Regions from separate parts of the Homo sapiens genome. Here region 2 is linked to region 1. A link means that fine-mapping ties the variant in region 1 to the expression of a gene that starts in the linked region. Tissue or cell type: whole blood. Region 1 holds a variant in brackets; the other region holds the start of a gene. All regions are shown on one strand. Distances are between the middles of the regions.

Evidence for each region.
Region 2: it holds the start of CLIP4, and the variant in region 1 is fine-mapped to the expression of CLIP4 in whole blood (INTERVAL, PIP above 0.99).

Annotation. Positions count from the first base shown.
Region 1 is chr2:29,154,005-29,166,544 of GRCh38, forward strand. It overlaps CLIP4 (CAP-Gly domain containing linker protein family member 4), which reads left to right. Exons shown (of 16, transcript NM_024692.6): 10 at 2,350-2,439; 11 at 3,200-3,343; 12 at 6,329-6,463; 13 at 9,827-9,950. Among named protein-coding and RNA genes, the nearest start is that of CLIP4, 45 kb to the left of the region's middle. The variant G/T (reference allele first, on the strand shown) is at 6,386.
Region 2 is chr2:29,109,662-29,122,201 of GRCh38, forward strand. CLIP4 (CAP-Gly domain containing linker protein family member 4) reads left to right here and starts at 5,754. Exons shown (of 16, transcript NM_024692.6): 1 at 5,754-6,004; 2 at 11,713-11,860. The coding sequence starts at 11,728. LOC105374386 (a long non-coding RNA gene) reads right to left here and starts at 5,083. Exons shown (of 3, transcript XR_007086265.1): 1 at 5,008-5,083. RefSeq lists silencers at 5,615-5,974, 6,165-6,404.

The DNA.
Region 1 (12,540 bases):
GGAAAGAACTGACATCTTTACAATAGTCAGTTTTTAAATTATGAGTTTAGAATATCTTTCTGTTTAATTAGGCCCTTTGAAAATATCCCAACAAAATTGTGTAATTTTTTTCTACAGGTATTTTATATCTGCCTTGTTAGGTCTATTGGTAGGTACTCCATACTTTTTGGTGGCATTATAAGTAGCATCCTTTTAACCTGAAGCCCAGAAGTATACGGTAAATATAGACAGAAAGCTCCAAGAGAAGCCCCCTCTATTTCTGGTCTGAGGAGCAGAAAAGGGGTCTCCTATTAGATAGAATGTGGATGAAATCACCTGTTATCTTTATTGCTTGCCTTTTCTTTCCCTTGTTTCCCATCCAGTCCCCAGGCAGTCCTACGTGGTATGGATGGGCAGCTGTGAATGGGCAGGCACCCGAAACCCCAAGGAAGGGAAATCCATGTCTCTGACCAGAGAAACTTTGGTCCAAGGACATAGATGGAATCCACATTGGTTTTTCTTCTGTTTTCTCACTGCTTGGCCCCAGAGGCACAATCAGTCTCAGGATTGTATGACAGAGCAAGGAAACGAAAGCTTAGACATTCTACTCAGAATACCGGGAAGGGATGCCCAGGAGCAGGAAGTGTCAGGGAAATCATAGAGAGGAGGGGACTCAAGAAAGAGGCCTCACAATTTTGGCTGTGAACTCCTAGGTCTTCTTGCAAGTGGTGTATGCATGGATCTGACCAAAGCCTTTGGTCTCCTTGGTAGACCACTGCTTGGGTCCCAGCCTGACTACTGGGCTGCACAGCACATGAGACAAATTCAAACAGCATTGCAGAGGCTGCGGAAGCGGAACCCACATCAGAACCACAGTGCACAGAGGGTGGTCAGGAACTTCTGCCCAGAGGCTACATGGGTTGACTGCCTGCTAAAATGAAACAGTCAACATCCTCCATAGGATTTAAACAAGACCTATTCCAGTGTCCATACATAATATTCAAAAGACACAAGATACAATTTAAAATTACCCAAAATATGAAAAAGTCAACACCTCTTACAAGGAAAAAGACAGTCCAAGCATAGCAGCTTTGAGATGACATGGACATTGCAATGAACACATAAAGATTTTAAGTAATGTAACCACACTCCAAGAATTAAGGGTGTAGCTGGGCATTGTGGTGCACACCTGTAGTCCCAGCTACTCTAGAGGCTGAGGCAGGAGGATCACTTGAGTCCAGGAGTTTAGGCTGCAATGGGCTATGATTGTGCCACTGCACTACAGCCTGGCTAACAGAACAAGACCCTGTTTCTGAACAAAAAAAAGAATCAAACGTGAACACTCTTGAAACAAATGAAAAGAAAGTTTCAGCCAAGAAATAGAAGATATGAAAAACAACCAAATGATACACCCAAGTGTATACACACACACACACACACACAAGAGTACAAGCAGAACTGTGGAAATCTCAGACTGGTGAATTGTATCACTGCCAACATCCTGGTTGACATATTATACTTATTATACCACAGTTTTGCAAAACATTACCTTTGGAGGAAACCTAGTCAAAATGTACAGGGAATCTCCTTGTATTATTTTTTATAAAAACTTTAAAGAAAATATTTTATAACTGAAAAATGTAATGAAAAATAAAAATTTACTCTTCAGGTTGCCTTCACAAAATGTCTCCTCTCCACCCTCTTCATTCAGTTTCTGCTGTTGGAGTTCAGGCTCTCATGCTTGGACTATGCTAATAATGTCTGACTGGTCCCTGCTTCCAGCCTCTCCCGCTGTGGTTTCGTTGCAGCCCTGCTGTCAGGAGAGTGTTATTTAACTAGACTCTGTTCATGCCAGTATTCCTTTTCAAAGCCCAGCAGAGGCTCCTTCTTTACAGAAGAGTTCTCAGTCCTTAGCTGGGCACTGGCATCCCTGTCTGAAGTGTTACTGTGACCTGTCTGTCTAGTCTTGCTTTTCCTACATTTCATAAGTACTCTGTTCCAGCCAAGCTACTCACTATTTTCTGTGTCTTAAGATTTTCTTTTTGTCCATCAAGAATGCCTGCCCTCAGTTCTTCCTGACCATACGGCTAGTATTCTCAGGAAGAAATCTGACCTGTCCCTTAGGACCCATCTCAGAATGTGATCATCTTGATGAGACATTAATTGATCTTTGTAGCCACTGTTACTGTCTCCTTCTCGTATGCTAGTGCTTATACCAAAACATGTCCTCATATGTCTGTGCAGTTGTTATCCAATATGTTTTCAGAAGTGAGTGAGATTTCGATAATGAGGGATGCATGTACTTTAAAAAATACATTTTATGTTTAATGTTAAAATTCTTGCTTAAAGTGTTTTATTTTTGTGTCCAAGGATTAATGACATCAAAAAAAGATAGTGCTTCTGAGTCAACACTTTCATTGCCTCCTGGTGAAGAACTTAAAACTGTGACAGAGAAAGATGGTAATATACCTTGTAACCTCTGTTTCTCAAAATTTAACTTTTGATGGAACTTTAAAATATGGTAGGAAAACAGTTTATATGGAGGTTAAGTTTTAAAGTTGGCAAGGGAAAAATTATAGTAAAAATTAAACTTGGAAATCACTGAAGCAGCTCATAGCAAGCTATATACATTATATTTTTTGTGTGTAAAGTACTGCATTATGATTCTTTTACTTAAATTAGATAACTACTGGACTAGATTTAAGAAAATAAACGGAAATTCCATAATATAGAGCACTCTACACAAATGTTTCATTTGCCTTTAGCTATCAAATCATTAGATGAATTGAGCATGAGTATTCCTTCTTGCCTTCTGGTTTAACTCAAAATGTCTTAATATTAAACTTTTGTTGCCTTAAAACATATTAATATCATGTTTAATTTTTGTATAAAAGGGGACTCTACTATGTCATCTAAGGTGAGAGGTGACTGATGGTCATTAGATTAGGTAGTCAGTTCACATCAATTGATGTGGTGATACCTCTTACATAAGATTGTGATCTTACCGTGGGAATCCTTAAAATATTATTGCTTGTGTTATAAAATCTTTTATATATAAACTACAATTGCTATTTGGATGAAATTAGGCATTTAATTTGACACTAGATAATCCATAATTGAGGAAGTTAAATGAAGAATTTCAGAAAGATTTGCCTTGACAAGCTGCTTCTTGGTCCACATCTTATTTTCCACCGTTTGACACGTTCTTTATCTGTTACAGTTGCCCTGCTTGGATCTGTCAGCAGCTGCTCCTCTACATCTTCTTTGGAACACAGACAGAGCTACCCCAAGAAACAGAATGCAATCAGCAGTAACAAGAAGACAATGAGCAAAAGCCCTTCCCTTTCATCCAGAGCCAGTGCTGGTATCTATGGCTTTTTCAACCAGGCTTTCTTGGTGTTTTTTATCTTGGTTTGTTTGTAAGTAGATTTGCTCTTTTTAAATGTGTAGAAGGAACCCTTTACTTCAATCAGATTGAACTACTTTTACTCTTCCCCACCTCCCCCGAACCTTAAGCCTTAAGGTCTCTTTGTTTTGCCGTCTCAGATATAAGACTTTGCATTTATTTTCATGTAATTCATTCTTAGTGGTTTTACCTCATCTGAATTTAGCTTCTTCACAGGCCTTTGTGTCATCTTCATATTTAAAAAGCATGCTTTCTGTGTTTTTATTCAAGTGATTGTTTTAAAACTATGTTTGCTTAAAACCTAGGAGAAGGTCAGAGGGTCCTCTCCCAGGATGGCAATACCAGCCAGTTTTGATATGGCTTTTTAACTAGCCGTGAACCTGCATAATCTCACTCAGTCCACATTTCTTCAGTTATTTGTAAAGATACGTAAAACACTTTATCAGACTTCTTTTCGAAATGACATAGATTTTGTCTGTTGCAGTTCACTTATTTGCCTATATAGCGAACTTGTCCAGAAAGGCAAAAGCCATCTTGGCAAAATACGTTCTTCATGAACCTCTTTATTACCAGATTCTTTTTTTAGTGCTTCTATTAATAGTTCTTGTAGTGAACCAACATTTTATTATGGAAAATATTCATGACAGATTTCTAAAAAAATACTTGATGGGAAGAAACCTCCAAAGCTCTCAACAATAACATTGACATAATAAGCCTAAAAACTGGGACCCTAAAAGTAGAGAACCTGAAAGTTTTCCCTGAAATTGTTTGCCTGGAATATTTATTCTCTGAGTGGCTTCCTCTCTCCATACCCCAACCAGTTTTTCTTTATGTTGTGAGGAGCAGAGGTGAGAAGGTACAGTGCTGACACAGCCATCCTGTTTGTCCAAATTTCATTCACATTTTAAGGCCCCCTTCATTTGGTATTTGCACTTTTGACATTTACTTGATTTTAAAATTTATACATGGGTATGGAATTACTTTTTTTTTTTTAACCTTCTAAACAAAGTAGTCTAGCGTGCCTATATATTTACCATTTAAAAAAATAAATTTGAGGGTTATGTCGACTTAAACAACAGTGAAGATGAAGAGAGTTATCAGAGTGAGAAAGAGGACCTTTCAAAGAGGGAGATGGGCCGAGAATGGGAGATATGGGAAAGTCTGTGTTGGGAACCCCAGAGACATGTACTTAAAACATGTTTCTCTAGTGAGTAGATATTCCACTTGTTTTATAGATTTGCATTTGAGGGAGATGTAGACTGCAGAGAACGAACAATAATGGAAAGTTAGGTTAAAAAATTAGAGAAAGAAGAGTGGAAATAAAGGATTCGGGGAATGGGAAAGGTAGGGACCTCGGCCTCATCATATCCCATTGTTATTTACTTTTTATTTTTTATTAAAGACAAGGTCTTGCTGTGTCGCCCAGGCTGGGGTGCAGTGTTGCAATCATAGTGACTGCAGCCTTCAACTCCTGGACCCAGGTGATCTTCCTACCTTGGCCTCCTAAAGTGCTGGGATTTACAGGCATGAGCCATCATGCCCAGCCTGTGTCCCACTGTTGAACTTGCCATCTTTGGTTCATTGTCTACAGGCGACAAGGGGACGGGCCTGAGGATTTCTGATCACAGAGTCTTGGTTTTAATCTAGGTGTACCACTTACTGGCTGTTAACAGTGTGTCTTAGTTAATTCCTGAGTTTGTATCTTATTTTTCAGCATAATTTTTAGGAAAAGCACTTTGTAAACTATGAAGTGCTATAGAATATTGGTTATGATGAGGGCCTCGGACTTACTGGTATAATCCAGACCTTCTCCATGGGTTTATTTTCCTTGTTTAGTTGCTGTGTTTTTGATTTCTTCTTTTTTCACAGTATGACTTACCCTCCATCCCATGCCCTCCTCCAGAGTTCTCTACTCCCTCTCAGATGGCAGCTCTTCAAATCTTTGTTTATGTACTGATGGGACAAGGCTCAAGCACCCACTTCTTCTCTTTCAGCTGTTATATTTGAACAGCTTTCTAGATCATATTTCTCTAGGACTTCTATGTTTAATAGTGGGCATTTCAAGGTTTAGTTTTGAATCAGGTTGACAGGGCAGTGGTTTTGTTCTTAATAACAAAATCACTTTAGGATAATTAGAACCGTATAGCAATTTAACCTTCAAATCACACTACTTTTGGCTGGTCACAGTGGCTCATGCCTGTTATCTTAGCACTTTGGGAAGCTGAGGTGGGAGGATCACTCAAGCCCAGGAGTTTGAGACCAGCTTGGTCAACACAGCAAGACCCTGTTTCTTTAAAAAAAAAAAAAAAAAAAAAAAAGTCAAATCACATGACTTTTTATATAATTTACACTGAGTCTAAGTGAACTATTAATACTATAATTCTAGTATTTTAGTAGAATAGAAATTGTCAAACTATGGCCCATGGGCCAAATCTGACCTACCACTTGTTTTTGTAAATAAAGTTCTTTGGAATGCAGCCATGCACATTTGAAAAAAATATATTGTCTATATCTACTTTCATGCTGCAACAGCAGAGTTCAATAGTTGTGGCAGAGGTGGTATGGCTAGCAAATCCTAACATATTTACTGTCCAGCAATTTGCAGAAACAGTTTGCTGTGACCCCTGTTCTAGTAGAGATGCTGCAGGCAATCTTGGAAGAGTTGGTAGTTTACCAGGGATCAGGTTTTGTGAATTTCCCATGGCAGTAATTTTCCCAGGAAACTCTTCACATTTCCTTTGAGCAGCTTGACCTCACATGTGAGAAACACAACTGTAGATGACTTATGTGATGAAAGGCATCAGATATCAAAATCACCAACTAACTAGACTAGTTAGAATACCTAGTGTGATTTTTTGGCTAATGTGCTTTTTGAGTTTTTCTCCCTTTGTTTTTTCTCCTCTTTTCCTGCCCTGCCCCTGTATCCCTCCCTGACTTAAACAGGTTTGAATTCCTCAGCAACATCTACAGCAAATAATAGCCGTTGCGAGGGGGAACTCC[G/T]CCTCGGAGAGAGAGTGTTAGTGGTAGGACAGAGACTGGGCACCATTAGGTTCTTTGGGACAACAAACTTCGCTCCAGGTAACTCATCTGCATATTTTCTTAACTTGAATTCTTTAGAGTACAAAAGGTTTAAAATTTTACATGTAAATAGAATTTAATTGTAGAGAAATCTTGATGAACAGTTTTTGTGGATGGCAGCTATAGTACAGAAAATGTGAAATGATGATGAAAACTCAGACTGTTTACTCACGTGGATGGTTACCCATACATTTTTTTCTTGCCATTTGTGTTTTAAATGGTCGGTGTTAAAAATTAGTTGTCATTCTCCAATTTTACTCTTACTGATTGCTGGGTGTGCTAAGTGACAGGCAAACATTTTAGGATTAGATTTTTGCTACGGATAATCTTTAAAATAAGTAGTAAATAATGAGTTAATTGTATACCTTTTTAAAAGAGTGGCTTGCAGAGAAAAGCACACAAAAGGGCTCAAAATACATGTTTTTGGGGCCCTTAAAAATACATGTTTGTGTATTTATATATTCATTCCAATCTATACGTAACATTGTTTCCAAAAGTAAAGATTACTTTCTATTTTTTTTTTTGAGACGGAGCTTCGCTCTTGTTGCCCAGGCTGGAGTGCAATGGCATGATCTCAGCTCACCGCAACCTCTGCCTCCTGGGTTCAAGCGGTTCTCCTGCCTCAGCCTCCCGAGTAGGTGGGATTACAGGCATGCGCCACCACGCCCCGCTAATTTTGTATTTTTAGTAGAGATGGTATTTCTCCATGTTGGCCAGGCTGGTCTCGAACTCCCAAACTCAGGTGATCTGCCCGCCTTGGCCTCCCAAAGTGCTGGGATTACAGGTGTGAGCCACCGTGCCCAGCCAGATTGCTTTCTTTTGTGTTGTCAATGATTATAATTTTAAACAGAAGTCGGTTGAACAAAACCAAGTTTGTATGTTTAGATAGCAATATGCTATTTTAACACATGGTGGCATTGCAGCATTTTAGGAAAAGGTTATCTAGAACATTGATTAAAAAAAAAAAAGTTTGTAGCATTTAGCCAAGAACTATGAGGGATCTGAGATTTTACCCTATTTGCAAGCTAACAAATTCGCCTGCCACAGTTTCATAGATGTTGGTGGAAGATACTGTGAGTACTAGAGTCATCACAGGTTTGAGACAAAGCACTCTAGTACTCACAGTCATAGCAGTAGCCAGAGTATCAGCATTTTCTTGAACTATTATTCCCTTAGTGCCAATTCCCACAGGGTGAGAGCGAGCGAGCCAGGTGTCACCTGCACAGCCAGTGTTTTTTGTTCCAGGAGAGGACCCTAGAGCTTAGGGAATCTGAATCTTTGAACTTATGGTACACATCCCTGCCATTTGCTCTGGTGGGAGATGCTAGCTCTATCCTCCAAGGCTGTCCCCTATACAGATGTTTATGAAAAGGTAGTCTAGAACGAAAGTAGTCACTGCCTCTACCCATAAGACATGCGGAAACATGACAGGACCATAGGCGACTGTCTCCCAACACAGTCTTGTTTCACTAATACCACTTATAATTGCAAGCCAACTGCGTGATTTGAGTTAGGTGTTTTATAATTCATGACTTTCTTAGGTCTCCAGGTAGTAATTGAGATTAGTTAGGATATACTTAATATAGGATTCAAATAAAAACTTAACCGCACAGGTAGGTTATTTTTTTACAATTACTATTTGTCTTTTGAGTTCCCTTTCTCTGATGTTATTAAACCAAGATAGAATGGTTTGATTCTTTGGATATAATTCTTCATTTTAGGTTGATTTCAGTTTTTAAATTCCTAATGTAAAGCATTTAGAAATTTGGGAAGTAGTAAGCAAATATAATAAAAAGTGGAAACTTTTTTGTTAAAAACATTCTGTCCTGTAAGGAAGTAGTAGCATTAAAAATTAATCACTGCTACAGAACAGTGGTAATATCTTAAGTATTTGGAGGTTATAAGATCTAGATTTGAGGGAGGTCATATTTGGTCTCATCAGCATTTTTTATCAGTGCCACCTTGGAAAGAAAATTAACATTTAAATGGGAAGATATCCATACCACACCACTGCCAAAGTGTAGTCTTTATTGTTAACACTTGTCATATGTATTTCTGCTGTATGCTACATGTTTCCAAGAGTTACATGGTTAACATTAGCAATTATATGGTAAATTAAAATGGGAAAATGCAAAAATTATATAGGAAAGCATAAAAGGCAGAAGCAAGTAAAACTTGGAAAATTGTAACTGTAGCACTGAGAAATAACAGTGGCAACCAGACTAACCTGGTTTAGGACATGTGGAAATGTGATGACCTATGTTCAGAGCGTTAGTGCAGCTTAACAATAGTTTTGTAACATTACTTGTATTACATAGTAGGAAATGGACTCAGGTATCATCTTTTTATACATAGAGGAAAAAAATTAAGAACTTGTGAGTTGGTTTTTTAGAAGGCATATAATTAACTCTTTGAACTAGTAATCTGGAAGAAACACTATTTTTGTAATTTGTAATAAGTTTCTTGATATCTATCTCCTGTTTTTTTACTTGATACTGATTATAAGAGACCAAATCCAATTACTACTGTACACTCCTTTTAAATCACAAGTAAATGGACTACTAGATACTTCTAATTGGTCTTGAGGCACCCTCAATTAGAAAATCCTTATTTTAGGATTTTGTGTCCATTTACCTTATATTGGGTAAAACCACATTTAAAGCAACCTTGCTACTTTAATTTTAGGCTGTCTAGAAAAGGAAATCCTGTTATTTCCTTCAGAGTAGGTCCTTTTAAATACAAAAAGTCTTTAAAATAATTCTCCCTATTAGCTAACCTAAACCTTTTCATTTAGGTAAAAAAAAAAAGATTTTTCTTTTTACCTTGGGTGGAAAAAAGAAAAGAAAAAGCACTCATCATGATGTCTAGTGGTATTTTCTATAATATTTTTGTCCTTCTTTAATTATTTGAGCACTGTTTGTGGTGTTCTAATGTTAGGTGAGTAAGATGAAAAGATTGCATGTTCATTTTATGATTTTTAAATCTCAATATTATGTTTCACTTCTTTCACTGAAACACTATATTACCAAGTCAAGAACAGTTTTTCACTGCAGCTTTTAGATATATTTTGGTCATATACTGTTTACACAATTGCCAATTCTTGCCAAATTTGTGTTTGTGCATTTTATTTTCCTCCTTTAATGTACTGCTCTGCAATTATGCTTGTAAAATGTTTTTCCTGTTCACTTTTTGAATTTTCAAAGTTTACAATTTTATAATTTGAAATCTTAATGAGTATCATGATCTTCCCTCATTTTGGTCATTTATGGAAATGTTAAAACACCTCGACTTTGGTTTTGTATAGTAGCATAAGAGTTTTGGATAAAGTACAGATGCTTTTGAAATGCAATATTCATGTTCTAGGATATTGGTATGGTATAGAGCTTGAAAAACCCCATGGCAAGAATGATGGTTCAGTTGGAGGTGTGCAGTATTTTAGCTGTTCTCCAAGATATGGAATATTTGCTCCCCCATCCAGGGTGCAAAGGTGAGAGAATGAAATTTATGTTTATTTACAGAAACTTTTTGTAATCTGCAGTGGTTAATAGAGACACTAATTTTATATTAAAGATATGCTCTGATTGTAGCTCATGTCTTCTTTCAAGGGGTTAACCAACCACCTTCTTCAGAGAGAAGGCTCATGGAAAGCTAAATTTGCTTTGCTGAGGATTTGCAATTTTAAAAACCTCCTTTATTCCTCATTTGCAAACCCTATGAGTATGTGTAGGCTATTAGAAGTGGCGTTTGCAGCTAAGTACAGTGAGAGCAGCAAGCTTAATCTGTCATGCAAACAAAAGTAAAAATGCTCTCTGATTGCTTCAGTCACATCCTAACTACATTAAATTTCCTGCCAGCAGGCACCCCATTCATTCTCCTACAAACCTAATGGAACCAAAATGGCTTTTTCCTCTGATTTCTTTAGTTTTCAAAAATAGATAGGCAGTAGATCTTTGGGGGAAGTGAAACTTCAAGGATTTTTATATAATATATCTCCTTGGTGTTTCTTCTTAAGATAGTATCTTTCATACCACCTCATCCGGTTTTAAAAAATAAGTTGAGCAGAAACAAAGTCCTCATAAAATTCCAGGTATCATTATGTGAAATGGCTTCTCTTATGCTCTGGAAGAAGCTGCTTGGTGTGCCTTTTAGCGGATGGGAAATGGGATACTAATCTTTAAATGAGAGATAACATATATGGCATAATCACATTCATGAGACTAGACCTACGATCGCAATCTGGGAGTCTTGTCTAGTTTTCCCTTACAACTAGACTGTTGTGACTATCTCCTGGCAGATTGAAGTTTTACATCCATTTCTCCCTCAATTTCTTTTTCTGAGTGAATCATTACATATTTGTTTAGTATTAATTTCCTTCTATGATATACTTGACATAATTTTCTTCATATTTATGGTGATAACAGAATTTAACATACAATACTTTGTAGTTTATAAAGTATTTTCACTTAAGTGTTGTTTCATTTGATCCTAATATTGATCAGGTAAGCTGGAGAATAATAACTATTACAAACATTTGTTGAGCATTTAGTGAGTGGGTGGGCTCTGTACAGTGTGCTTTAGATGCATACCTCATTAATTCCCCCAGACCCTGCGAGCTGTAAGTTATTAGGATCATTCCCATTTTGCAGATGAAGAAACGGGTTTCAAAGAGATAAGTGATTTAGCTAAAGTCATACAGCTAATTAGCCAAGGAGCTGGACTCAGCCCAGGTGTGTTACTTTGTAATTGTTTTTTCTGTAAGCCCTTGCTTTTAGATGGTTTGTTCTTTCTTTCTTTCTTTTTTTTTTGTATTTGTTTTATAAATGAAGAAAAGGAAGCAGTAACTACGAATAGTGCTTATACATGCTGGGGTCTGTTTGCAGGGCCCTTCATGTATTAACCTGTTTACTGCTCTCCAGTAACCCTGTGGTGCAGGCACCATGTTCCCTCAATGAGGAAAGTAAGTCACAAGGGGTGACATGTGCTGTGCTCCCAGCTGGGGATTTGAACCCAGGTAGTCTAGTATCAGCATGTGTGCCCTTAACCGTAACCCTATAACGGTTAGAAGAGCTTCAGGGACCTTCGTCAGGACATACATCTTGTAAATAATTGGTTTGGGAGTAAAATGCATGCTGAGTCACCAGTGAATCTTCTGTGTTCTCATGTTACTTTGGGCATATCTTCATCAAAACATTGCAGCAGTCTCTTACAAGTTTTGTTTGTTTCCTAGTCATGAGGACTGGGATTCTGCTTTTCATGTTTGATTACTCAGAGTACATAGTTTGGCATATTTTAGGCACGGTAAATATTGATCCAATCTGATTCCTAGTTCAGTGGTTTTATGCTGTAACAGCTTTTTCCTCCTCCTTTACGTTGTCAAGCCACTTTCTCATGGTTTCATCTTTTCCTTCTTGCTTTGTTTCTGGAGCACACGTTTTTTACTTTTTTTTGATTGCCTTCTATTTGGTTTTCTTTAAGGTGGTGCATTTAAAAAGCAGCCCCCTCTTCTTCAAAAAAAAAAAAATAGGGCTGTCTCTAAATGAACTGCTATCTCAATCCAGCTGTCTTCCTGTCATCTTCTGATTGTCTCATTCATCATCATCAAATACTATTAAGTGTCTTTTAGCACTTATGCTGTGCTAGGCATTCTATAAGCGAATAAAACAGACATGGTCCCTGATTTTGAGGCGTTTCTAATCTGAACCAGCTTTGGAACTCTTGAAAGATACCACTGATCTTCAAGATGGAAGAATTTTAAACTAGGGACTGCTTGAGGACAGTCTTAATAAGGTAGTGTCCAGTCACAATCACACCTTGCATCTTCTTCCTTCTCAGGACTATGGCTGGCCTTTCCCCCCACCCCTTTCTGTTTGTAAAATGTGCTTCCTATCCCAGAATCTTTGCACATGTTATTTTTTCTGCTTGGATGGCTTTCTACACCCGCCTACTATTGCCTAACTTTCACTTATTTAATACCTTTCTTCTGCTAATATATGAATCAGTCAAAACTTCTTTAGAGAAACTCTAGGAAAACTCACTGACTAGGTTAATCACATACACACACAGACACACACACACAC
Region 2 (12,540 bases), 44 kb before region 1:
TGGCAGCAACTGGAGGGTCTGGGGAGCAGTGCCCCATGTAGGAACATGCAAATTCCTTTGTTAGTGTCTTCTCAGGAACTAGGGCTAAGAAAAGGGAAAATAAATTTATAGAATAGGGCCGGCATGACAGCTCATGCCTGTAATCCAGCAGTTTGGGAGGCTGAGGTGGGTGGATCAGTTGAGGTCAATAGTTCAAGACCAGCCTGGCCGTCATAGCGAAACCCCGTCTCTACTAAAAATACAAAAATTAGCCAGCCATGGTGGTGTGCATCAGTAATCCCAGCTACTCGGTAGGCTGAGGCAGGAGAATCGCTTGAACCGAGGAGGTGGAGGTTGCAGTGAGCTGAGATTGCGCCACTGCATTCCAGCCTGGGTGACAGAACAAGATTCTGTCTCAAAAAAATAAAAAAAGAATAAACATAGAATAGCATGAAACTAAACTAGATCAACTGAATGGAAATATCTGAGGAGGTCTTTAAGGGTTTATTTTGCAAAAGATATCCAGGTGATTCTAATGCACAACCAGGAATGAGAAGCCCCATTCAGATAATAAGTCTCGTGCGGCTCAATGGAGTCCTCTTCAGTTTGTGGTCTACTTCAGCAGGCAGTCCCCACCTGCAACCTTGACAAAGGAGATGGATTAGAGGAGGGCAAGCCCAGGTAGAAGCAGTAGGAGGTTCCTGGGGTCTCCAGTGGCTACTGATTTGTAAGGATTTCTATGGTATGTGAATTTACTTAATAAATGATATCATAAACTTTTTGAAGAATGAAGACAGGGAGTTTGGTTTGGAGAATCCAAAAATATGATAGGAAGAAAGGATGACTCCAGTGAGCAAAAAGAAGAATAGAGTTGCCATTTACTGACATAGGGAAGGTTATGGGGAAGGGTTCCATTTTGAACATGTTCTATTTGTGATATGTAATGTATGCTGTAGAATGGATGTTGAGTAGGCAGTTGGATATACATCTGAGGTTCAGGGCTGGAGATAGAAATTTGGAAATCAGGAAAACAGAGATGATATTTGTTTATTTATTATTATTATTTGAGATGGAGTCTCACTCTGTCCCCTAGGCTGGAGTGCAGTGGCATGCTCTCAGCTCACTGCAACCTCCACCTCCCAGGTTCCAGCAATTCTCCTGCCTCAGCCTCCCAAGAAGCTGAGATCACAGGTGCACGCCACCATGCCTGGCTAATTTTTGTATTTTTAGCAGAGACCAGGTTTTACCATGTTGGCCAGGTTGGTCTTGAACCCCTGGCCTCAAGTGATCCTTCCTCGGCCACTGAAAGTGCTGGGATTACAGGTGTGAGCCACCACGCCTGGTCAATATTTAAAGCCATAGACTGAATAAGGTCACCTAGTGAATGAGAAACTGACTTCCTGGAAACTGCATGAACAAGGTGCTTATAGAACCACTGTAAGGGTTTCTCTGAGGCATATCCAGGAGGGTGACTGCTGAGTCATAAAGCATACTGCTAATTTTTTTCACTAAGCACTGCCAGGTTGATCTGCAGAATATATTTACCAGTTTAAATTTCCATCAGCAGTGCATCTTTCCCCAGATCTTTGCCAATATTTGGGATTATCTTTCTGATTTCTGCCATGCTGGTGGGTGAAGCAGTGGTGTGTTGAAAACAGTTCATGAGAGCTGATAAAGCACATTTCTTCCCAACTTCTTGTTCAGTGACCTCAAGCTACACTGGTAGCTGGAAACTGGCAGTGCTCAGAGTATTTGCACCATGGAAATTGGCAAACACTGTACGTTAGGACTTTTCCTTCCCTGGGGAGCGGGTTTTAAAACATAGACCAGCATATTGGTGGCTATGGGGTCACACTCTTTATATTCCCACTCTGATTACAAGTGGGGTTGAGCATCTCTTTAATGCTTGCTTGCCATTCTGGCTTTTCCTTCTGTGAATTGTCTATTCTTATACTTTTCTCATTTTTATATTGGCCTTTAAAATATTTTATATTGACTTCCTTTTGATTTGTGAAAAGTTCCTCATGCATTTCAGATATTAATCCCTAGTTGCTTTTGAACATAGCACATGTTTTCTTCCAATTTGTCAGCCATCTGTTAATTTTTTCTATGGTATTCTTAACTGAACAGAACCCTTAATTGTGATGCAGTCAAGTCATACAATTTTTTTTTGCTTCAAGGATTGTGCTTTTGCAAACCTGTTTTATGAAGTAAATTCCTAACCCACATTATAGAGATAGTCTCCTGCATTTTCTTTTGTATCATATGTAGGTCTGCCATTTATCTGGAGTTCACCTTTGTATATGGCAGAACATGGGGCTCTCAACTTTATTTTTCCTTGATAAATTAAAGCCAGTTTCCCGAATGCCGTCTTCTAAATAATTTATATTTTTCTCATTGATCTGTGGTACCACCTTTGTGTAAATGGAGGTAGCATTTATACGTGGGTCTGCTCCTGAGTTCTTCATTCTGTTTCCTATTTGCTCTATGTGTTCCTATACCAGTACCATAATATTTTTATTACTATGTGGCAATGACATAATATCTGGCATGGCAGGTCTGCTCTGGTTTTTATAATTGACTTAACTGTTTAAAATTTATTTCTCCTTATATATTTTGTAAGTTTGTTGAGTTCCCTAAAAATTTAGTTTCTGCTGGAATTTTGGTTGCCATAACATTTACTTTGGAGACTAAATGGATACTTTTACAATGTAAAGTCATCCTATCCATGCTGTATCTCTCCACTTATTCAATATTTTATGTCCTTAAATAGAGTTTTAAAATTTTCTCCTTAAAGTTTTTGCAAGTTGTTGGGTTAATTCCTGGATATTATGCTTTAGAGTTTGTTAAACTTTATTGTTATTGTGAATGGTTTCTTATTGTCTGTTACATTTCCCAGTTGCTTACTGCTGATGTAGACAAAACTATTGATTTTTAGAAACTGATCTTGTACTTGGCAACCTTGCTGAGCTAACATTACTTCTAATACTTTGTTGATTCTGTTGGGCTTTTTATGCTGATGATCACACCTGTAAACATCACAGACAGGAAGATATTAGGGGCTCTGCCCAGTGCTCTGATCTTTTGCATTTAAGCACTTCTGCTAGTTGAACTCCAATCTGGTGCCCCAATTCTGACAGTTGGGTGTCTCTCATGGTCCTAAGGGCCTAGGCCCCCTATACACTCACAAATTAGAAACTGATGATATTCCATCCCATATCCAGTCCATGTAAAAGCAGTGACCTTGTCTTCTTTTGCTATTTCCTCTAACCCTTTTATCATGGTCGGGGTCCTGAGAGCTGCTGACAGATCTTCCTGCTGCCGAGTGTCTGAATTCCTGAATGCTGCTCTATGCAGCCATTCTGGGTCTTTAATGCCCCCAAAGACAGCCTGTGTAGGTTAGCAAAGTAGTGAATCAACATAGGCCTTCAGATCAGACAGACTTAGGTTTGAATCTTATTTCTGCCCCTGGCTACATGGAGCAAGTCACGCAGCCTCCCAGAGTCTGCTTCTTCATTTGTAAAGTGAAGACAAGATTTCCATAGGTCAAGTGCCTTACAGTGGTCAGTGAGTAATGCCCTTTCTCCACACTGTGATGTTGACCAGTAAGTTGATCACCTCCTGACGCTGTGGATTATTGCTATACTTTTCAGGAACTTTGTGTCTCCAGATAGAATTGAATCTCAGCAGCTACAGTTGGTCCACATCCCCATGTGCCTTCCCACCCCAATGAATAGTTCAAGTTCCAAGTTCTGGCCACATATCATTGTCCAGTCTCACTCTGGTTAACTGGGCAATACCTGGTTCTAAAGCTTGTATGTCACGAGGTATTCTAGGAAGCATGACTCCAACGAGCACTTGCATTCTTGATGATGGTATAAAGAAGTAACGTCAGATTTTTGAACAAAGGCAACTAAGTGAGTGGGAGACTCTGGTGGCTTGGTATCCTGGGAATTTGCCTATGTATCATACAGTGTTTGGGTGTAGCAGATAAAGCCAGTGGCCTGGCTGGTTCTAACAGAGATCTTTATTATAACTAAGAACAACTGAGCTAGCCATGCCTTGTCACCTACTAATAGTGGTATTTCAGATGGATAATTTAAATCAGCAATAAAAGTGAACTGTATACGTTTGGAAACTTCACCAATAGCTACTCTGTTACACACAGATCTTTATGACTTTCTGTGGTTCAATGACAATTGGCCTCATTTATAGGTGCTTGAAGCCAACCAAGGGCAGATTGCCTTCCTTCTTTTAACCAGCTAAAGAGATGGGTGGGTCAGACAAGAAGAGGGTATGATGAAAGCAGGGAAAGGGAGGTGGACTCTTCAGAGGGAGGAGGAAGTATCCGTGTCACATTATCTCTGAGAGCACTCGCAGATGCTGAGCCTGCAGAGACAGAGAAACTGGCAGCTGACCAGGGTCAGGGATGGTCATGTATTCAAATATTGTGGGTTTTAGTCAAGTGTGCTCCACCCGATTCAACAATGTGATGTGACTGCTCCTAGCAACTATTTTGATATGGTGAATGTTGTTAAGCATAGGACCTAAGAAGAGGTGGCAGTCTCTTTCCTCTCCGCACTTGGCAGGCCACCCACTCATTCCTGATAATCACATTTAAGAGAGCTCTGGACAAGCTGGAATGCATCCAAGAGAATCCCTCAACATGCTGGTGAGTGGGATTGTGACCAGGTCATATCAGGAGTAGCCTAAGGGACAGGTAATGTGTGTCTTGGATGAATTGGAGTCAGACTTAAGAGTCCCCAGGGCAGAAACAAAATCCAGTGAGGGAGAGATGCAGGGAGCTGGATTTTAGCTCCTAAGGTAGAAAATTTCCAAAAGGCTGATCAAAGATTAAATGGCTGCCTTAAAAGGTAATGAGTTCCTTGTTAGTGGAGGTGTTCAACCACTGCTTGGTGGGAAGACACTGTAAGGAGGATTCAGGCAAGTGGGAAGGGGGCTTTTTCCAGTCCCTGAAATCAATGATTCTAACAGGAAAAGATGCTCCGGGGTGCGGTGAGCGCTTACCTCTGCTCTTGCAGAGACACTGACAGACGTTCATTCAACATCTGTTCCTGCCAGGCACTGTGCGCGCTGAACACAGAAGTACAGCCTCTATGAAGCAGCCGCTGTAGGCCTCAGAGACAGCTGATAGATGTAACACTGTTGTCTCCATGTTTCAAACTTCGGTCATGGTCTTACTAGGTCTCCTCATTAAGGGGACTCACTATGTGTCCAGTAACGCTTTCTTGTTACCAGATGACAGAGAGTCAGGCTGTCAGAGTTCACGACTTTAGGTGCACAGTTTCACCCTGTCTGGTCCTTGGGAGACGGAGAAGGGGTCAGGAGAAAACGTGGGTGAAGAGGCAGCAAAGCCGCAGGAGATATGAACTAATTGCTCAACGTGGGTGTAGCACGGATTAGGCCTTTTACAGCAAGCGCTGCCAGCAGGGAACTGGTGGATGTACTCTTGACCACGCTCGGCTGGACTCTGGGGAGCCCAAGACGGGTAAGACTAGGTCCCCGGCCCCAGCAGCTGGTGGGGGCGCCGCAGGTTAGAGACGTGAGGCCGCGAGGCTGAGGGCTGTGAAGGCGGTGGGCACGCACGGCGTGCCGGGGCCGCCTGGCTTCGCGGCGGGGGAGGTAACACTGCGACACCCCGCAGACGCTGTCAGCCGGGGTCGCGGCCCCGCGTGCGCCCGATCATCTGACTGCTGGGGAGTGCGGGGGCGCGGGAGCCAGGCGAGCCAGCGCAGGCGCGCGCTGCCTCCTCCGTCCCCACCGAGTCCCCAGCGCGTGCGCGGGGCCGTGGCCGAGGCCTGCGCGCCGCCCGGCCGCCTGCACTGCGCGCGCGCCCACCCCGCGTGGGAGGCAGCGGGAGGGGCCCGGAGAGGTGTGGAGCGGCGCGGCGGGAGGCTCCGTGGGCGGCCACGGGAGACAGCGCCGGCGGGAGCGCGCCTCTCGGCCTTTCCTCCGCGCCCCCGCGTCCCCAGCCGGCCGCTCCGAGAGGACCCGGAGGAGGCAGGTGGGCCGGGGGCGCGCGGGGCCCCCCCGGGCCGCGGGCTGGCCGGCGGCGGGGTTGGGGCCGGGGTGGGCGGCCCTGGGGGCCCGCGGGGAGGTCAGTGGCCCCGGGAGGGTCGCGCAGAGGCGCTGGGGGCTGTGGAAGCCCCGCGGCCGCCTCCCGTGGGCACCGGTGTCGCTGGCCGCGGGGAGGCCTTCTCGGGGCGGAGCGGCCCACCCGGCGGGGATGGGGACTCCTCGTGGCGGCCGCTGACGGACGGCCCAACTTTAGGTTGAGGGGCGCGGGGTGTGCGGGACCCGGCGGCGGAGCTGGGCTCTGGGCCACGACCGCCAGCCGCGGCTGCCCCGAGAGTCCCCGCACGCGCAGTGGCTTTCCAACGCGGCCTCTTCCCATTTCTCACTTGACTCCCCTTGCGCATTAAATTGTCGAGAAACCTTTGGCCAGTGGGTCTTCAAAGCTAAACCAAATGGCTGTCCTTGCAGTCCTTGGCTACCTGAGATCCCTTAATTCTGAACCATCCGCACCTGGGAGGGGAAGTTGAAAGGAGCGCTGGAGCTGAGCCCGCATCCTTAAGGATCCCATTCACTGCTTATGATGGTAGAGCTTTGAATTAGATGTCAGGCTGTTCACGTCATCCAGACTCTGGTTTTCAGCTCTGTGCTGAGACAGTGTTTTGATACGTATCAGAGGATGATGTTCCTATGGGACAATAACTTGCTGTATGTTCTGAGATACTAGACTGCGTTCATATTGTAGCACCATCATCGTATAAAACGGGCGCCTTTGAAAGGTTTCAGTAAACACCTTCCTCAGGAACATCCGCCAGCACTTAAATTGTACTTCACTTTCACTTTGACGTTTGTTGTTTGTGAATCTTGTGCACAATTTAAAGTGAGTCGTCTAAACAGCACAGGATCACGTGGTGCGGGGCATTGAGCAACTGGGGAGGAAAGCAGAGACTTGAACCTGCTGGAGTCTAGTTGGTCTGCGTTTTTATGTTGGAGAACCATCCTGGTTCCAGCTTATTTTGCTTTCGTAAATATGATGCATTTTTTAAATGCTTTCATTTGATACGGTCTATCTGGACTGTAAGATTGAGTCTAGCCATGCATGGAATGTGTTTACTTCTGTTTTGTAGAAGATTTAGCCCATGGTATTCTATTTGTAGGATTCATTTCAGACATTTTGTGTTTACCACATACAGTCCCACCAGCAAGGGCTTTTAAAAAAGTGACCTATGTTGTCTCTCATAGCTTATGACAACTCCAATTTTGACACGTGTTTGAAACTAGTGATCTTTAGATTATATAAAATCAACTTCACTCTTTCTCCCTGTTCAAACCTCAAACTCTGGTTACTTTTAGGCTTACTGCTCCCTTGTTAATTATTTATAATGAACTATGGAGCTATAGGCTTGCTTTAGTGTGTTAACCTTTATTTGTGTCTTGTTTCAGGCATTTGTATATTGTTTTCTCATCTGGAGAGTGAGCTGCACTGTTTTCCTTCAGTGCTGTTTAGAAGAGCTTTCGGAGACCAGAAACATGTTCTTTTTGCATTACCCAATATGGTAGCACTAGCCACATATAGCTTTTGACCACTTGAATGGGGCTAGAGCAGTGGAAGCACTGAAATTTTAATATTTTTTTTCTTTTCCTTTTCTCTCTCTCTTTTTTTTGTTTTTGTTTTTTTTTTTTGAGACGGAGTCTCGCTCTGCTCTGTCACCCAGGCTGCAGTGCAGTGGCCTGATCTCTCCTCACTGCAATCTCTGCCTCCCAGGTTCAAGCGATTGTTCTGCCTGAGCCTCTCGAGCAGCTGGGATTACAGGCGCCTGCTACCACACCCTGTTAATTTTTGCTGTGGGGTTTCACCATATTGGCCAGGGTGGTCTCGAACTCCTGACCTGAAGTGATCTGCCCATCTCGGCCTCCCGAAGTGTTGGGATTACAGGCATGAGCCACTGCACCTGGCCAATTTTTAAATTAATTTAAATAGTCACATGTGGCTAGTAGTTAGCTGGTCAGATGCCACAGCTTTAACTTATTAGTCTCCAGGAAGCCTTCGTTGACCCTCTTGAATCTGTGCTTTCATAGGACTCAGCTGTCCTTGGTCATAGCACTTACTACTTTCAACTTTCTGGTAGGAATCAACACTAGGCTGTAATTTATATGAGGGCAAGGACAGATCTGGTTTCTTTACCTTTGCATAGCTTAGAACTTAGTAAGAAAAACTGAATAAATATTTGTTAAATGCATAAATAGCTTTTTCAGGGCAGGTATTTCAATTTTTAATTCTCTCTAAGGCCAACTAAGTGTTCAGTACTGTAAATACCTGTTTAGTAGATTGTACAGATGTTATGTAGGTAGCAAATAAAAGGATCATTGGAGTTATGCTTTAAATACTTACGTGGTGAGATTGGAATCTCAGGAGAATGATGACTCATAACAAAGTATTACAGGAAATTGAATGAAAGGGCCTCATGATTCCAGCTAATGTAGACACAGCTTTGGTCTCCTATTAGTTGAATAACTCAAGGACACTCTTGAACCATATCTCAAATCTGAAGTCTCCTGGCTTCAGTAAGGCCCTTTTATGGGGTCCAGACAGTCCTGAACCAGCCTGAAGATGCTAGTGGACATCCCCATTTATTACTGCTCTGTGTTAAAGCATGGACCAAGGAGTCTTGGAAAAAAAATCACAAGGTATTTGAGCCACGTTATGTAAGATGCTTTTGCTAACAGCTAACTTGGAGTGATGAGTAGGGTGAAATTCCTATAGAAATCAGAGTTTGGGGAATTTGATTCTAGCTATTGTTAGTATCAGAGGCACCTGTTCTGTAGACAGTTGATTAGTGCCAATTTTTTTTTTTTTTTTTTGAGATGGAGTTTCGCTCTTCTTGCCCAGGCTGGACTGCAGTGGCGGGATCTCGGCTTACCGCAATCTCTGCCTCCCAGGTTCAAGCGATTCTTCTGCCTCAGCCTCCTGAGTAGCTGGGATTACAGGTGCCCTCCACCATGCCCAGCGAATTTTTTGTATTTTTAGTAGAGATGGGGTTTTGCCATGTTGGTCAGGCTGGTCTCGAATGCCTGACCTTGGGTGATCCACCTGCCATGGCCTCCGAAAGTGCTGGGATTACAGGTGTGAGCCACCATGCCTGGCAGGGCCAATATATATATATATATTTTTAACCTGAGGCTTACTTTATAATCAGTTATCACCAGTTAACCATAGTTGGATTTGGAATGAAAGTGTGTACTCAGTTCAGATCAGTATACTTAGACATTTGACCAAGAGTCCAGGTGTTGTAGGTCTTCAGATCCAGGAATTGCTTTTAGGAAATGAATCTGAGACTATAAGGAAGTTTATAGGGGTACATAGTTTCCTTTGGGAGGACAAAAGGTAGAATGTTAAGTTTTTCACGAAAATAAGGAAATGTAACTAGAGAAAAACGCAACAAAGACAAAATACAAAGAATGTTCACTGCATTGGTCAGGTAATATTGTAGCTTCTTCTGGACTTGAAGTATCTAATATGTAAAAGAATGAAGCTGGTTACATCTGATTGCATGAATCCTCTTTCCACTTTGAATCTAAGCTTTGAATATTAGTTAAATATGTGTAACACACTATTCTAGCTCCTGTGGTGACTGCTAGTTGTGTACGATAGAGTTCGTATCTTTGAGGATCTCAACAGTTTACAAGGAAATGAAAGGTGCTCTGGGGATCACTTAAAATTTTTTTTTTTGAATGGGAGACTCCACCCTTTGAAAGGGAAGTCATGTGGTGACTCCTCTTAACCGACTCAGACAGATATCCACTGAATCTTTTTGCTGAAGAATTAAGAGTATAAAAACATGTCTGAGTCCCAAACCGTGATTATAGTCAGATTAATTTTCCTAAAACAGCTTTAATCATGTTACTCTCTTTAAAAAAATCAGTAGTTTCCCAGTGCTCATGAAAGTAAGTGGTTTGGTCTTTGATGAGGTATTTGCTCCTCAGTACAGCCCTAAAAAGCCCTTACAGCCTCACCTCTGACTGTTTTCCTAGTCATATCCCAAGTTCCAGCCTACTGTTCTTTTAATGGGATCCCCTTTTATATTGATACCTATTCATCATTCAAGACTCATCACAGATGATACCTTCTTCACCATTTATGATTCTTAGAAGCTCCAACTGCAAATGTTCCTGGTACTTATGTGATGGAGCAGATCCCATTCTGCCTCATAATCTATAGTTATTAGTGGTATTTTATTCACCTTAATAGATTGTAAACTACCTAAGAAGCATGGACCATCTGTTAACTCATTTTTGTATTTGCTGAAACATCTAGAATAGTGTCTTGTATATAGTGGTTCCTTAATAAATACTCATTACTGTTTGGAATTGATAGTATTTGAGGAAGATCACCGCTGCTCTATAACACTAATTCCATGAACTTGTCATTTTCCTATTTATGTGGCAAGGTTAATGTCAAAATGCTTCTAAGTATTTGGTGGTAAGTAATTTTAGCATCCAAGAAAATGTGAATACCTTAAAATAGTAACAACTGGATTAGGTTACCTAATATATAACATCTATATCCATATAAGCATACGATTTTTGAGGAAAAAGAAAGCCTCCTACTTTTTACCAGTTCCTGCCAGTATTAAGAAAACATGAATCAAGTTAGGAAGACAACAGTGAGCTCAATGAAATGACTGTTTTATTGTAGTGGGGAACTGATGGTAAGGATAATTGAGTTAGATATAGGGTTGGTTAAGTAGAACAGAGCACACATTAAGTAGTAGCTAGTATGGTGTTGTCTACTACCAGATCAAGCCATTGATTACCTATTTTTATTCTGTGCTTTCTACTGAAATAATCTAAACTCATTTTTCATTTAGTTTTATAATGTTTTGCTTACATTTTAAAAACAGGAATTCATGATACTTCAGATAGTAAAGATCGGATACAAAAGAAACTGGAAGGCTTTTAGCTTCATAAGTTTGGTTTTACTAGCAGTTTCTCTGCTTTCTACATCATTTCTGAGATGTAGGCTAGGGTGTAGTACAAAGTCTAATTTAGAGCAAATTTATTCTAAGCACTCATGTTTTCTGGGAAAAAGAGGTAATATAAGCCATGTGCTTTAAAAGGCATGGCTTCCATCTTTGGCCAGGATAGAACTCACATACCTCGGACCTTGTTAAGTTGAACAATCTTAGTAAACTCTTAGATTTGTAAGAGGGATATGATTAATTTTCAGTAAAGTTTTCTGGGATAGAAAATAATGGAAACATTTTAAGGTAGATTATCTTCATGTGATGAGCACATGGCATGAGCTATTGGATGACAAATGATGTAACTTGTGCCAGTGTTATGGGAAGTTAAAGATCCATCTACAAGGGTTAATACGCCCTTGTTTGTTACATGAGTAGGAGGATTTCACCCATTTAGATTAGCTCAGCATTTAAAGTGTTTTCACCTATTTTATATTCCTTTTGAGCTTTGTCTAGAGAGATTACATGTGCTACCGACTGGTATAAGAGGTGGTGTGAAGCAATGTATGCCTTTTAACAACAGTTTTGCCAAAAGGAATTTTTTCCCTTTCATAAAAGATCCTTACTGAAAATGTCAGCAGATTTGACGTCAAATAACTTTTAGGCAGTTATTGAAGGCAGTCATTCTAAGTTGCATACAAATAAAGTAGAAACACTTTTTTTTTCTTTCTTATTATAGGTGGCTTTCTAGAAGATGACCATAGAGGACCTTCCAGATTTTCCATTAGAAGGAAATCCTTTGTTTGGAAGATACCCATTTATATTTTCTGCTTCTGATACCCCAGTTATCTTTTCCATTTCTGCAGCACCAATGCCTTCAGACTGTGGTATGTGAAGTAGCTGTGCTTATTTTCTGTGAACTGGTAACTTGACTTCTCTGTTACGCCTTTTTTGCACTCATAGTCTTTCTTAGAACCATTTTTATGGTTTTCATAAAATTGCTAAAGTTTTCCTTTTTCAAAAATACAATTGCTTATTGCTTTTTCTGCTTCTTAAGCTAAATGCTTTATTTCTGCTGTCAGCATTTATATTATGTTAAAATGTTCATTTTAAGCATCATGATGGATTTAGAGGACTTTATTTTTAGAAAGCAATGGTGCTTAGATATCTAGCATTCTTCTGCTATTGATGTATTTATTTTGGTTAAATATACTGACTTGCTAAAAAAGCCATGTACTTAGGCAAAGAGGGTAAGAGACCCTTCCCTGGAATGTGAAATGAGATTGGTTAATGTTTAAATTGGTCCATTTACATCTCCTCTGTAAAATGTTAATTTAGAAGCATTCCACTTCTCATCTATTTAGGCTTATTTCTCCAGAACCATAATAAAAGGGAACCAGGAGATAAATTTGATAGAATTGTTAAATTTCCAGTTTAGAGTTTTTCAAGTAAAATGTTGGTTCACCATTTCAAATTGTTTTTGGAGGTAGAGATCATACAATTTTTACATATTAGTAGATATTAGTAGATATAAAGTTATTGGACTGAGAATTTGTCTTTTTAGTCA